2 linked regions of the Homo sapiens genome follow. Each later gene encodes a partner of the first gene's protein in a complex. Each region holds a gene or a part of one and is shown in the gene's direction. Other genes may lie near its edges.

What was found. Proteins that work in one complex are often made in the same cells at the same time.
Region 2: the proteins of RUVBL1 (region 1) and ACTR6 are in contact, whole or in part, in a cryo-EM structure (PDB 6IGM), measured with the Homo sapiens proteins. Residues at the interface, in NP_003698.1 of Homo sapiens: Lys162, Thr163, Ala164, Lys165, Gly166, Thr167, Tyr209; in NP_071941.1 of Homo sapiens: Tyr217, Tyr300, Arg338, Cys339, Leu340, Thr341, Pro342, Thr343.

Annotation. Positions count from the first base shown.
Region 1 is NC_000003.12:128,113,809-128,120,827, reverse strand, and holds part of RUVBL1 (ruvB-like 1), read left to right. Parts: intron 1-1,413; coding exon 1,414-1,500; intron 1,501-7,019. UniProt on the Homo sapiens protein: Possesses single-stranded DNA-stimulated ATPase and ATP-dependent DNA helicase (3' to 5') activity; hexamerization is thought to be critical for ATP hydrolysis and adjacent subunits in the ring-like structure contribute to the ATPase activity.
Region 2 is NC_000012.12:100,196,157-100,203,833, forward strand, and holds the start of ACTR6 (actin-related protein 6), read left to right. Parts: upstream 1-4,658; 5' UTR 4,659-4,695; coding exon 4,696-4,763; exon of another isoform or gene 4,764-4,904; intron 4,905-7,677. UniProt on the Homo sapiens protein: Required for formation and/or maintenance of proper nucleolar structure and function. Plays a dual role in the regulation of ribosomal DNA (rDNA) transcription.

The DNA of each region.
Region 1 (7,019 bases):
TAACATGGTGAAACCCCTTCTCTACTAAAAATACAAGAAATTAGCTAGGCATGGTGGCAGGCGCCTGTAGTCCTTACATATTTTTTGAGGGGCTGCCATAAGTGTGGGACCAAGGTACTTCACAGTCCATGAGGAATAGAGGTAGAAGAGATAAGATGTATTCACAAGACTCTGGCACAGTGTGGTCACTGCCCAGAGAGAAGAGCACCTTTTAGATAGTCACGTATTCAGTTATTAAATCAGTGTAGCAAACCTTATATTATGTAATCCTGAGATATAGATGCTCAGCTAGTGTAACTTTCTCAGTGTTCCCCCCTTATAGTCAAATATTCTAAAATATATGAAGTTCCATAGCCCATTTATGGAATATGTGTGTGTATATATACACACATGTGTACTGCAAATGGTTAATAAAATTCAGAGATTTATAATGTATTTAAAATATACTAACAGATGATAAAGTAATTTAACCTTGAGGATTCAAAACATATTCAATGGATCTAATAGTGCCATAGGTTTAACTTCACATTCAGTATTTACAGTGTTCACTGATGGCCAGCTAGTACTCTATGTCATTGATTCTTACCCCTTAATAGGTTACTCTGGGAATTTGATGAAAGCTATGGATCCTTTCTCTGGAAAAAATGTATATATGAACATAAACACAGTTTCGTTCCCAACTTCAAGAGGTATTTGGGCCCCTGGCGTCTATCCCTGTACCCTGGGCCAAAAATCAGTGTTCCCACTTGTACTCATACTGTGCATTCTTCACACAGTAGTAGCTAGCACCATCTTTTAAAAACAAATCATAGCATGACACATAGTCTTCAAGACCTTTTCAGTGGCTTTGTATTATTTATGTAGAATAAAATCCAAACTTTACCACACACTGTAAGTTCCTGTTCTGCGTTCTGGCCGCTGTCTACCTCTTCAACCTCATCTTCCTGGTCTTTTTCGCTATACTTTGGTCACTGCAACCTTTCTGTCCCTTGGATATGCCAAGCTTGTTTCTGCTTTGGATTTTCTGAATTCGCTGTTTTCTTTGCCTGGAACGCTGACTCCTGCTCCTCCCAGAGGTTCACATATCAAATTAAATGTCATCAGAAAGACACTCCAGGATCACTTTCTAGCCACTCGTTCTCTCTCATCATCCCTTTTTCTTCATAGTAGTGATGAAGATTATGTGTGCAATGTTTGTATGTTTGTATCCCTCCCTAAAACATGAGCTCCACAAGTACAAGGCTTTTCTGCCTTGCCTTCGTTACCCTCGGCACCTAGAACAGTGACTGCAGTGCACTGGCACTCAGTGTTAGTTGGATGAGTGTGTGACTTGTGTAGGCCAGGGACTGAGATTTTTCCCCTTGTGAAACATTTTAATATTGATTTATTATTTCTTTCCATTGTGGTGTGTAGGCATGTGGCGTCATAGTAGAATTAATCAAAAGCAAGAAAATGGCTGGAAGAGCTGTCTTGTTGGCAGGACCTCCTGGAACTGGCAAGGTACTCATTTTCTCTCATTTTTTAAATCTACCCAGGAGAATGATCCTAGTGTCTAAGCCAAATTGAATTCATGTCTTAACTAGTCTTTGTTTAGCTAAATGGGTTATATGTATGTTTTTAAAATTAATATGCAATAATACAATTGGGTATCTAAAATCCCTGCTTCTAAAATTCAAATTATCCTGGCCTACCTCCAGAGAAGAAAGAATGAAGTCCTTGAAGGGGTCTCATTGTCTCTAGAATTTGTCCTTTTTCTCTTTCAAGTCTCCTTTGCTGTGGAAATACATTTCTGTTGGCCTAGGGCTTCATAAAGATCTTCTGAGTGACATCTTACTTGAGGGGACAAAAAAATGAGTCAAGCATTCTTCCAAATGCTAGCTTTACGCATCGCTATTGTGGCTGTGTGGGAGATGAAAAAAAGGAAAACAAGAATTAGAGACATGATTTTTATCTTCAAGGGGCTTACAGTCTCTCCAGGGCAGAAAGAAAGGAAATCATGACAGCACAGGAGGACTCAGTATGAGTGCTCAGCTTTGAGGTATTGACTAATATTAAATGCAGCTGGAATTTAAGGAGGCAGCACTGTGGGCTGGTACAGCTGGAAGGGTTGAGACTTGACATTTTCCCTTCAGAGCTGGGAGAGGATTTGGCTTTGCAGGGAAGATAAGGGCCTTTCAGGCAGAGGACACCGTGTGGCTTCTTGGGATTCGTGAGGGGACTGGCCAGATACTTGAAACTCACCAGAGTTCCCAATTTGAGCTTGCTTATTCTTCAAAAGGGCCGCTTGATGTGGGCAAGTAGGAGCTTGGGGTTGTGTGTGAAAAGAAATGGGCTTTAAATTCCAGCTCTAGTATTGACTTGCTATGAGACCTGAGGCAGGTCCCTTAACTTTTCTAAGCAAAAGCATACTCTACCTATTTCAAGCAATTATTAAACTGATCGATTGTAAGATAATGACTTGCATTATAATTTTGAAATGATTACTGATTGTGTATCTTATATTGGTATCTTACAAGAGGAAGAAGTGCTATATTTGTGAACAGTTTTTTCTCTTCCTATATAAAAGCAAATTGTGAACAGTTTTTTAAACTGTAAAGTGCCATACAGATGTGAGCTTCAGTTACCTCTCTCCAGGCAACATTAGCTTGTCCAGTGCATTTACCATTTATTTGCTTGCTATTCCTTATATCTTAGACCTTCTCTTTCCCTCCATTTTTCTTCTTCCTAAAGTAAATAATTTAGAAATTTCTTCTAGAAGTTTGTTGGTGGGAAAGTCTCTCACGTTTGCATTCATTATGTTGCCCTTGTTTTGAAAAAGAGCTATGTTGGCTATATAATTCAGTTGACAGATATTTTCTTCAGTACTGTTTCACAGTACTTCTCTCTCAATGTTATTTGCTCCTTTGGCTTCTGTTGTTTTTGAGAAGTCTAATTTTGAGGGTTTTGAGTCTTCTTTCTGCATGTTTTTGAGATATTTTTGGGTTTGGTGTTTCACTATTATATGTCAGAGTGGATTAATTTTTGTTTATCATGCTTAATGCTAATTGTGCTTCTTGAATCTGAGTATTATGTCTCTGCTCAATTCTGGAAAATTGTCAGCCTTAGGAGAATCGCTTGAACCTGGGAGGCAGAGGTATCAGTGAGCCAAGATCATGCCATTGCACTCTAGCCTGGGTGACAGAGCAAGACTACGTCTCAAAAAAAAAAAAAACAAAAAAACTGTCAGCGTTAATCTCTTCAGCTATTGCCTTTCCCCATTCTCTTTGTTCTTTCCTTCTGGAACTCCACTGAGATGAGGTTAAGATTGCAGTGGTTTTCAACCTGGGGCAGTTTTGCCCTTGCAGGGGACTTTGACAACGTCTGGAGACATTTTTGGTTCTCACGACTTGGTTGGGGGTGCTACTGGCATCTAGTGGGTGGAGGCCAGGGATGCTACTAAACATCCTGTAGTGCACAGAGCAGTTTCCATAATAAGGAATTATCTGGCCACAAACGTCATGGAGTCAAGCTGAGAAACCCTGGGCTAGAGCTTCTCGTTTTGTCCTCTTTGTCTTTTAGCCTCTCATATTTGTTATCTTTTTGACTCTGCTAAATTATGGGTAATTTCTTTTAGATCTTTGTTCCAGTCTAATTGTCTCTTAAGCTATGATTAAGTGACTGATTAATCCAATCTATTGAATATTTTTTTCCTTTTCATTTTGAAAAGTTTGGAACCTACAAAAAACTTGAAAGAATAGTGTGATGAGCCCCTCTATACCCTATACCTAGATAGCCAGTTATAAATATTTTGTGACATTTGCTTTTTCTCTAGTTTATTTCTGAACCACTTGACAGTAAGTTGTAAGGATGTCTTCCTACATGACCACGGTGCCATCATCAGACCCACCTTGCTAATGCTATTATATTCCCCCAATTTTTGTCAATTAAAAATTAAATTAATTAATTTTTAAAAAATGAGCAGCAGAGCCAGGGAGAGAATGGTGTCTCAGGAACCAAGAAAGGAGAACCTTTAAAGAAAGGAGTAGGTAACCATATCCACTGTGGTAGAGAAATCACAAAGATGAGGGAGCCTGGCAGCTCATCATATGATTCCATGAGCAGTTAACAAATGTGCTTTCAAAGACAACGAAGTTAAATTGTTTTAATGAAAAGAAAATATAGGTGATAGAAATCAGAAAACATCTTTCCAAGTTGTTTCAGTTTTTGGCTTTTTAAAAAACACCAGAATATCAAAATGCAATCAAAGATTACACACTGCATAAATTGTTACAAGTTATAATGTCTTTTTTTTTTTTTTTTGAGATGAAGTCTCGCTCTCTTGCCCAGGGTGGAGTACAGTGGCGTGATCTTGGCTCACTGCAATCTCTGCCTCCCAGGTTCAAACGATTCTCCTGCCTCAGCCTCCTGGGTAGCTGGGATTACAGGTGCCTGGCTAATTTTTGTATTTTTAGTGGAGATGGGGTTTCATCATGTTGGTCAGGCTGGTCTCGAACTCCTGACTTTAGGTGATCCACCTGCCTTGGCTTCCCAAAGTGCTGGGATTACAGGCGTGAGCCACTGTGCCTGGCCCCCAGATGTATTTTGTTATGGCCCACCTTTTTTACTCATGTGTGGCCCTTCAAGAGTCCTCTTTTATGTTTTTTTTTTAATTGTAATGTTTTTGTTTGTTTGTTTGTTTTTTGAGACAGTTTCAGTCTGTCGCCCAGGCTGGAGTGCAGTGGTCTGTTACCCAGGCTGGAGTGCAGTGATCTCGGCTCACTGCAGTCTCTACCTCTTGGGTTCAGGTGGTCCTCCCACCTCAGCCTCCTGAGTAGCTGGGACTACAGGTGCACACCACCACGCTTTGGCTAATTTTTGTAGTTTTCGTAGAGATGGGGTATCGCCATTTTGCCCAGGCTGGTCTTGAACTCCTGGGCTCAAGCAATCCACCTGCCTCGGCCTCCCAAAGTGCTGGGATTGCAGGCTTGAGCCACCGTGCCCAGTCCCGGTTTTATTCAGGGGTTTCTATCTTAAGTGCTATACCTTGCTGAGCTTTCCTGTATCTACAGTCTCTGAACTTTCAAGGCAAATAGTTTACTGCTCTGAATGTTATTATTTATTCAATTCTAGGTGTTTTGTAAGAGGAGAGGTTTTCAGTGGACCCAGTGTGCCATATTGCTAGAAGCATATGTCTTTCATTTTTTTTGGTGATATTGTATTGCTTTCCTCCCAGGAAATATGAGAAGTGCTCAGCACTGTGGTATTACCTTATAAGTTTGTCCACTCCCTTCCAATGTGTATGAAGGAATTTGGTGACTTCTGCTTAATGGTTTGCTGCAGGGTCCCAAAGTTTAGGCAACTTACCTGGGTGACAGGCAGAAATACTGCTTATTTTAGAGATGCAAATGCATGGTTCATATGCATTTCCACTCTTGAGGACCTCACACTGTTAATAATGGGTTTGGGTTTTAGAAGAAGGAGATATTCAGATGAGATTGAAAAATAGAGATTTCTTCAACCTTCTTTTGGCAACAACCTCTTTTTTGTGCCACTTGTCACTCACATGGGGTGAGTACAAAAAAAAATGGCTTTGGAGATTGGGGTTTGCATCCTGGTGCTGCTGCTTGCGGTTTTACCTTGGGTGTGTTGGTAACTTTTGAGTTTGTTTCTTAATCTATAAAATACAAACTAGATGATCAAGGTCATAGGCTAGTTGGGGAGATTCGATGAGGTCTATGCAGCACTCTGTAGTAGGTGTAGGAATAGTAGCCATATCATATACTTTCCCTCTGGAAGTCTTTAAATGGAGGAAACGAGACACACATGAAGCTTTTTTTTTTTAACCAAGTATTTATCATATTTTAATGGAAGTATGTTCATCTCTTCTGTATTAGTTAAAGGGAGGGAGAGTGCCATTGAATTGGATGTGGTCACTGTCTTTGAAGTTCAAAACTGAGGGTAGGGAATTGGGGCTGGCAGAGATACAAGGAAGAGAAAGGAGTAACTGGGAAGGGGTGGTCCTGTCCAGCCTGTGGCCCCACGGGGAGTCTGCTGTTAGAGTGCTGCTCCTCTCATTGTGCCCTTTCATGTTCCAGAGATTTTTTTCCTTTGCTCTTAGAAGAATACCAGTTTTCAAGGTGTCAGCCTTGAGCTCACAAGTGCAGATGCCTAATGAGGCAGGCAACGGGGATGAGGGAAGTGGCTGGGTGCACTGTGGCGTGTCTGCCTTGAGCCCCAGGTGCTCGGCCTTGCTGAAGGTCACCATGAGACTGCAGGCCAAACAGAACCAGGCTGTGAGCAACGAGTTTGCCACTTGTGATCTAGCATGGCACTTTAGTACTTTCATTTGACAGATGAGGAAATCGGGCACCTGAGATTTGCTGAGTGCCCAAGGTCACACTGAAAATTAGTGGCAGAACCAGCACTAATCTTTCTGTTCCTGGCTAGTGCATTTTATACTGTGCTATACACTGATTCTCTACCAGATTTTACTACCTCAAAACTATCACCAAAAGGGCATAGAAAAGAAAATCTGAGAGGAACCTTGACTGTTAATTTTAAGACACCGTCTCAGTTTCACTTTGTTCTTCAGTAACAAGCTTGTTTTCAGTCTTAGCCCATATACCTGGGGAGCTGGCCTTACTCGTGCTCCTGTTTCAGAGTTGAGGAAAGATGAAAATGGCATTTAGAGGCCATGGCATTGCCCAGTTCTGTACCAACTTTAAAGCATTTGCTTGCCATACTTGACATTTGACCGTACACCTGTGAAGTCTGGTTCTGTTTAGCATTTGCCAGCTGTAATTATCTTGTCAAAAATCAATTTGTAGTTTACCACAGGGCGTGTTTAAGTGTAACTTGTTAAGACCAACTCATAGCTTCAAAATCCTACTTGAGGTATCCTTCTTCACTCTTTGTGGGCTACATAACATAAAATGAACAATCCATTCATTCATTCCTTCATTATTTCTGATGGGTTGTAGATTGGTGTTTTCCTGTATTTGTAAAAAGAGAAAGCAGGTATCTCAAAGATCCAGTGGTGT
Region 2 (7,677 bases), on another chromosome or scaffold:
AAAACACACCCCTGGCTGGGCACAGTGGCTCACGCCTGTAATCTCAGCACTTTGGGAGGCCAAGACAGGTGGATCACCTGAGGTTGGGAGTTCGAGACCAGCCTGACCAACATGGAGAAACCCCGTCTCTACTAAAAATACAAAAATTAACTGGGCGTGGTGGCGTACACCTGTAATCCCAGCTACTCGGGAGGCTGAGGCAACAGAATTGCTTGAACCTGGGAGGCGGAGGTTGTGGTGAGCTGAGATCACACCATTGCACTCCAGCCTGGGCAACAAGAGTGAAACAATGTCTCAAAACAAACAAATAAACAAAAAACACCCCTACTCTAAAACCCTGATCCCTTCTTTTGGAAAGCCTTGCCTGTTTCCATTTCCATTGTTGTAAATAGCCAACACTCGAGGCCTCAGGTATTATCTTACTCTGTGACCAATTTAATTTTACATGTCAAAATATTCCTCCATTGTCAGTAACCCAAAGGAAAATATTTCCTTTTCTTAAAAAAAAAAGAAATACTCTGAACCTACAACAAGATGGATAGCGGCCAGGCACAGTGGCTCGTGCCTGTAATCTGAGCACTTTGGGAGGCCGAGGCGGGTGGATCACCAGAGGTCAGGAGTTTGAGACCAGCCTGATCACCATGGTGAAACCCCGTGTCTACTAAAGATACAACATTAGCCAGGCGTGATGGCGCATGCCTGTAATCCCACTTACTTGGGAGGTTGAGGCAGGAGAATCACTTGAACCCAGGAGGCGGAGGTTGCAGTGAGCTGATAGCGCGCCATTGCGCTCCAGTCTAGGCAACAGGAGCAAAACTCTTGTCTCAAAAAAAAAAAAAAAAAAAAAGATGGATGGCATAACACAACAAACACTGATGCACCCACCACCCAGTCCAAGAAATAAAACACTGCAAAACAACAGTGGAAGCCACAAGGCACCAGCCCCAAGGCAGCCATTCCCAATCACATCCCCCCTCTTCCCATCAGAGGCAACCACCACCTAGAAACCAGAGCTCATCACCCCCTTGCATCTCTTCCCCTCCTGACACAGTATATATCCTTGTGATCTGTAGCACTATTTTACATGATCTTCTTAACCTTTCTATAAATGGTATCATTCTGAACAGAATCAGTCTGTAACTTATTTCTTGCTCAATTTTATGTTTGTGAGAGTAATCCACATTGACACTTATAGCTCTAGTTCCTTTGTTTACTACCACATAATATGCCATTATATGAATATACTACATAGTTGGCCAAAAACACTGCTTGATGTTTCATATGCCATGTAGTGCCTACTACTTTCCGTACCACTATGGAAAATGTGCCAGCCATTTCCATAACATTCTCCAGAATCCTCACAGCCACTAATGAGGAAGGTAAGATTCCCATTGAAGATGAGGAATGAGAAGACCAAAGAGGAACTGGGACGTGGTATAACTTGTCCAGTACATGTGAGCAGCAGGATCCTGCTTCAAGTTCAAGCCCATCCAAGTCTAAAGCCATGCTCCTGACAATATGCCCTGTAACCCATATAGGGCTTTACAGTCATCTGAGAAAAATCTGAAACATGACGCTCTATTTTCTTTGTTAACAAATATCCTACAGGAAATTCACCTGACATGGGGACAGTCCATGTATACACTGAGGAAGAGCCTCTACCTTTGGCAAAGGTCTTCCACCGGGGTCATTCCCATGTTTATACAGGCGCAAAGTAAGCCTGAGTAGGACTGCAACCCTGGCTGGCTTCCTTCGGGGAAACAGGCTGTCTGCACCCACTTACAGACAGGACAGAGGAGCCCGAGAGAACATGGGAATCAGATCCTGCTTGAATTGGCAAAAGCTGAGTCGACAAAGCTCTGAGAACATCTCCGGGGGCAGCTGCAGCTGTTAGCAGCTCTGGGGGTCTGAGGAACAGTCCTGTGCTCATAAGGCCAAGAGCCTGCCTACTCTGCTCTCCGCGTGGCCAGCTTTGAGAGTGCTTTCATACATCCCAGCCCAACCCTGCTGCCCTGGAGAAAGCCGAGCCTGCAGCGCGGAAGAGGAATGAGAGAGAAGGTGGAGGTTCACAGGAGCCAGGCAGGGAGCACAGCCTGGAGAAAGGATACTGGGCTCCAGGCCTGGGCCCAGATCCCTCTATGTGCTCGAAGCAGGTGGACCCCTCGGAGGTGACAGAGTCTAGCCCGCTAAGGACTCCCAAGGAAAGGGGAGGCCTCTCAGCACCAGGACTCCTCACTCTACTCTCCTGCTTCTGCATTATTTTTCCCATTATGTCTCTTCGCTGGAGGATTAAAAGAGCCTCAAAGAGCAAGGCCTAACTGGCTGAAGTGACCCCCTCCCACCTCTCCTGGACAAAACAAGGAGCAAGAAAAGAGGGTCTGCCACTTACTGGCTGTGTGACCTTAGCTGGAGCATCCCTGCCCACTCTCGGAGGAAATGTAGTGGAATATCTCTAAGGGCCCTGCCATTTCTGACTCTTTTTGTCTATAGTGCTAAATGCACTGTGGCTCACGTCTGGAATCCCAGGAAGATGGGTGGGGAGGATGGTTTGAGCCCAGGAGTTCGAGACTAGCCTGAGCAACATAGCGAGACCCCCATCTACACACACACACACACACACACACACACACACACACACACACACACACAAAAACCATTTTTTAAATTAGCCAGGCGTGGGCCTGCACCTGTGGTCCCGGATACTTGGGAGGCTCAGGTGGGAGGCTCAGGTGGGAGGATCACTTGAGCCCAGGCATGAGGCTGCAGTTAGCTGAAATCACACCACTGCACTTCAGTCTGCACAACAGAGCGAGATCCTATGGCAAAAAGAACAAATAAATAAAAATAAAATAAATGTACTAACATTTACTGAGCAGTTTAGAGTATAATTAGTTTAATCTCAACACCCCATGATATAGATACTACTGCTATCTCATTTTAGAGGACGCTGAAGGGCAGAGCGGTTAACTGATGTACCAAGGTCCTAGCAGAGTTCTAAAGGAGGCCCCTGGGGCAGAAGCCTACGGTTATGAATGCTTGGGAGGGCTGCACCGGACATCCACGGGATGCTGGGGGTGAGAAGACACTAGAGAGGGGTCAGAGGGAAGGAGCAGAGGGAGATAATGGGTCAAAGTGTCTGAGGAAGGAGACTGGGCTGGGTAGCCCCAGCCACCCGGGCCTAAGCCCAGGTGGAGGGGAGGAGATAGGAACGAGGACGGGATGTGGAGAAGTGGGGAAAGGCAGGCCGACGTTGGCAGGGTGCGAGGAGGCCTTGGAGAAAGGAGGGTGGATGGGGCAGGCCCCCAGGGGAGGCAAGGAGCGCCGACAGAAGGGCCCAGGCGCTTGCAGGGCGCGAGTTCCCACCTCAAGCACCGTGGCGGCTCCCGCGCTGCGCACCTGGAAGTGCGCAGGCTGCTCCGCCGCCTCGTCGGCGCGCTGGTAGCTGAAGCAGGCTTCTGCTATGTCCAGGTGGCCGAGGGGCAGCGGGTCGTGGGGGTTCTTGAAGTAGCAGAGGCAGCAGCGGCGCCCGTCCAACACGAACCGACGGCTGCGGTAGCCACGCAGTCGCGCTGGTTCCCGCGCGGTACCCGCCCCGGGCTCTGCAGCCTCCCCATCGCCGTCGCTGCCCTCCTCTGCCCGGGTTCCGGCCCCGGTATGGCTGCCTGCGCGCCAACCGTTTGTTCCCCGGCCCCCGCGCCTTCGCGCTGCGGCTGCTGCGCTCCCTGCCCCCGCGGTGCCCCCTTCCCGCCGCCCCGCTCCTCTCTCAGGCGCTCAAAGTGGCCTGGAATTTGTAGAACGCCCCCCTCCAAGCCCGTTGGCAGTTGTCCTAGCCCGCTGGCCCTTGCCCCCGCCCGCTGGCCGTTGCCCCCGCGACGCCCCGGAAGCCAGGTCCTGCCTCCCGCACCTGCCAAGTCCCCGCCCTGCCGGAGTCTCGCTCTGTCGCCCAGGCTGGAGTGTAGTGGAGCCATCTCGGCTCACTGCAACCTCCGCCTCCCCGGTTCAAGCAATTCTCCCGCCTCAGCCTCCCGAGTACTTGGGATTACAGGCGCCCGCCACCTCGCCCGGCTACTTTTTGTATTTTTAATAGAGACGGGGTTTCGCCGTGTTGGTCAGGCTGGTCTCAAGCTCCTGACCTCAAGTGATCTGCTTGCCTTGGTCTCCTAAAGTGCTGGGATTACAGGCGTGAGCCACCGCGTCCGGCCCAAAAGCCTTTTTTGGATGAGAAAGACTCACTCAGCTTCGTCCTGAAGAGCAAGTGGGCTGGGGAAGAGGAGAGTATGAATGTGAGTCCAAGAGCAAGTTTTGCACTTTTTTCTTCAAAGAATGTCACCGTCTGAAGAATGCGATTGGAAGACACACACACACACACACACACACACACACACGCAGCCGGTTCTCTACAGGATTAGAAAAAACTTGCGCGAATTAATCTGCGTAGTTAAAAACAAATACGAAATGAGCGAGAAAGCACATAGTAGTCAAATCTCGCCACCACATAAACAGGTTAAGTTTGGAAGCACAGCCCCTAACATTCGGTGCTGCTTAGCATCTCCGACTTCCGGCGTCCTCCGTTGCTAAGGTGACCAGAGGCGCGTCCTAACGCTCCGCCCAACAAACCATAGAGTACCGGAAAAAGCTCGAGCAGAGGGGTCGGAAAGGGAAAACAACTACGGCTGCGGTGTGGTTGGTGGTGAGATGACGACCTTAGTGCTGGATAATGGAGCTTACAACGCCAAAATCGGTTACAGCCATGAAAATGTGTCGTAAGTACTTTCTTTCTCCGAGGGACAAGATATATACGCCTAGTGGTTTCATGTGCTACGTTTCATCTCCGGACATCAATGAACTGCAGACACCCCCGCGCGGCCCTGACTTAGCCAGAGGGATTCCCTGGTTGGAGCTGGGTGGGTGATTGTGATGCTTTGAATTGAAATTGATTTTGGTTTTAGTTTTGGGCTGCGAGGCCCCGGAAGTGGGATATATGTTTTATTTCGTAACAGGAAATAGCCAAAGAAAATAGGCTTATAGAGATGCGTTCCTGACAGAAGGGTCCGTAAAGTTCATCAGCCTTTGGAAACTATGGGCACGGTGTTTGGGTGTATGCGGATTTTCCTGGGTACAAGATTATAGGTTTCATTAGATTCTCAAAGGGTTCTATGACCCTCCAAAAGTCTAAAAATCACGGTCTTAGGATCTAGAGGCTTTGAAGACTTTGGCCTACTGGCCGACCTAGTTGGTAAGGTCAATTAAACAGAAGTACTGTTAATACAATGGCATTCATAACATGTATAGTCATAAAATATATGTTTGAATAAATAAGCAAACCTAAAGACACGCCTTTCCTTTATCAAATTAACAGAGCATTAAAAAAAATTCTTTCCTTCCTCCCTCCTTTCCTTCTTTTTCATTTCTTTTGAAACAGAAATGAAAGAGGGAAATCAAACTGAGTAGGAATGTAAATTGTTACAATCTTTCTGGAAAACGTTTTGGCAATGTGTATCATTATCATTGTCACCGAGGCTGGAGTGCCGTGGTGCGATCTCAGCTCACTGCAGCCTGAATTCAAGTGATTCTCCCGCCTCAGCCTCCAGAGTAGCTGGGATTATAGGCGTGCACCACCACTCCCAGCGAATTTTTTGTATTTTTGTTAGAGACGGGGTTTCATCATGTTGGCCAGGCCGGTCTCGAGCCCCTGGCCTCAAGCAGTCTACCCGCGTTGGCCTCCCAAAGTGCTGGTATTAGGGGCGTGAGCCCTACACCCAGCTGACAAAGCAATTTTTTTTTTTTTTTTTGGAGAGGGAGTCTGGCTCTCTTGTCCAGGCTGGAGTGCAGTGGCACGATCTCGGCTCGCTGCAACCTCTGCCTCCCGGGTTCAAGCCATTCTCATGCCTCAGCCTCCCAAGTAGCTGGGACTACAGTTGCGCACCACCACGCCTGGCTAAGTTTTGTATTTTTAGTAGAGACGGGGGTTTCACCATTTTGGCCATGCTGGTCTGGAATTCCTGACCTCGTGATCTGCCTGCTTCAGCCTCCTAAAGTGCTGGGATTACAGGTGTGAGCCACCGCACCGGGCCATGACACAGCAATTCTGTTATTACCTAGAGAATTAATTAGAAGTGCTTTGTATTATTCATAGTCATCGTATACAGGCAGCCAAAAAATGGGAAGGAAGCTAAATAATCAGGAATAGCATATTGGCTAAATACACCAAAATACAACCTGAGACTGATAACAAATTCAAGCTTCTTAAAATTATGTCTTCAAAGAACATTTAAACATGTAGAGAAAATGCTGACAGTATTATAAGTGAAATAAGCAGGTGTAAAACATTTTTTTACAGTATTATCCCAGTGTCATCTCGTATACACATACAGACACATTTGTATGCATACATGTGTGTATAATTAATAATGGCTCTAGTTTGTCTTCCAAACCAGATTGTAAGCTCATGGCAAGCAGCAAGAGGCCCAGGTGGGTGGATCACGAGGTTAGGAGATCCAGAGCATCATGGCTAACACGGCGAAACCCTGTCTCTACTAAAAATACAAAAATTAGCCGGGCGTAGTGGCAGGCGCCTGTAGTCCCAGCTACCTGGGAGGCTGAGGCGGGAGAATGGCGTGGGCCTGGGAGGCGGAGCTTGCAGTGAGCCGAGATCACGCCACTGCACTCCAGCCTGGGGCGACAAAGCGAGACTCGGTCTCAAAAAAAAAAAAAAAAAGTTGCTACTTCTGTACCCTGTAGCAGCAGCAGTCTCCAACCTTTTTGGCACCAAGGACTGGTTTCGTGGAAGACAATTTTAACGTGTGGTTGGGGGTATGAGTGTGGGCGATGGTTTTGAAATGAAACTATTCTCAGGTATTAGATTCTCACAAAAAAAGTGCACAAACTATATCCCTTGCATGCACAGTTCAAAATAGGGTTCCTGCTCCTATGAGAATCTAATGCTATGGCTGATCTGACAGGAAGTGCAATTTAGGTGTTAATGCTTACGGCCCCACCCTCCTTCCCCACCCTGGTGCTCACCTCTTGCTATGAAGGCTTGGTTCCCAACAGACCACAGACAGGTACCGGACCACAAGCCCTGCGGTTGGGGATCCCTGCCCTATAGCATCTTGCTGATTGAAGATCTTTGGCTTCATGGGAACTTAATTTATTTTATTTTTTTGAGACAGAGTCTTGCTCTGTCGCCCAGGCTGGAGTGCAGTGGCACAATCTCTGCTCACTGCAACCTCCGCCTCCTGGGTTCAAGCAATTCTCCTGCCTCAGCCTCCCCAGTAGGTGGGATTACAGGCATGCACCACCATGCCCAGCTAATTTTTATATTTTTTAGTAGAGATGGGGTTTTACCATGTTGGCCAGGCTGGTCTTAAACTCCTGACCTCATGATCCGCCCGCCTCCGCCTTCCAAAGTGCTGGGATTACATGCTGTGAGCCACTGCTCCCGGCTGGAAACTTAATTTTTATGGCCATAATTTTTAACTTGTGAATCTTTTTTTTTTTTTTTTTTTTTTTGAGACGGAGTCTCGCTCTGTCGTCCAGGCTGGAATGCAGTGGCGTGATCTTGGCTCACTGCAAGCTCTGCCTCCCGGGTTCACGCCATTCTCCTGCCTCAGCCTTCCAAGTAGCTGGGACTACAGGCGCCCGCCACCAGGCTGGCTAGTTTTTTGTATTTTTAGT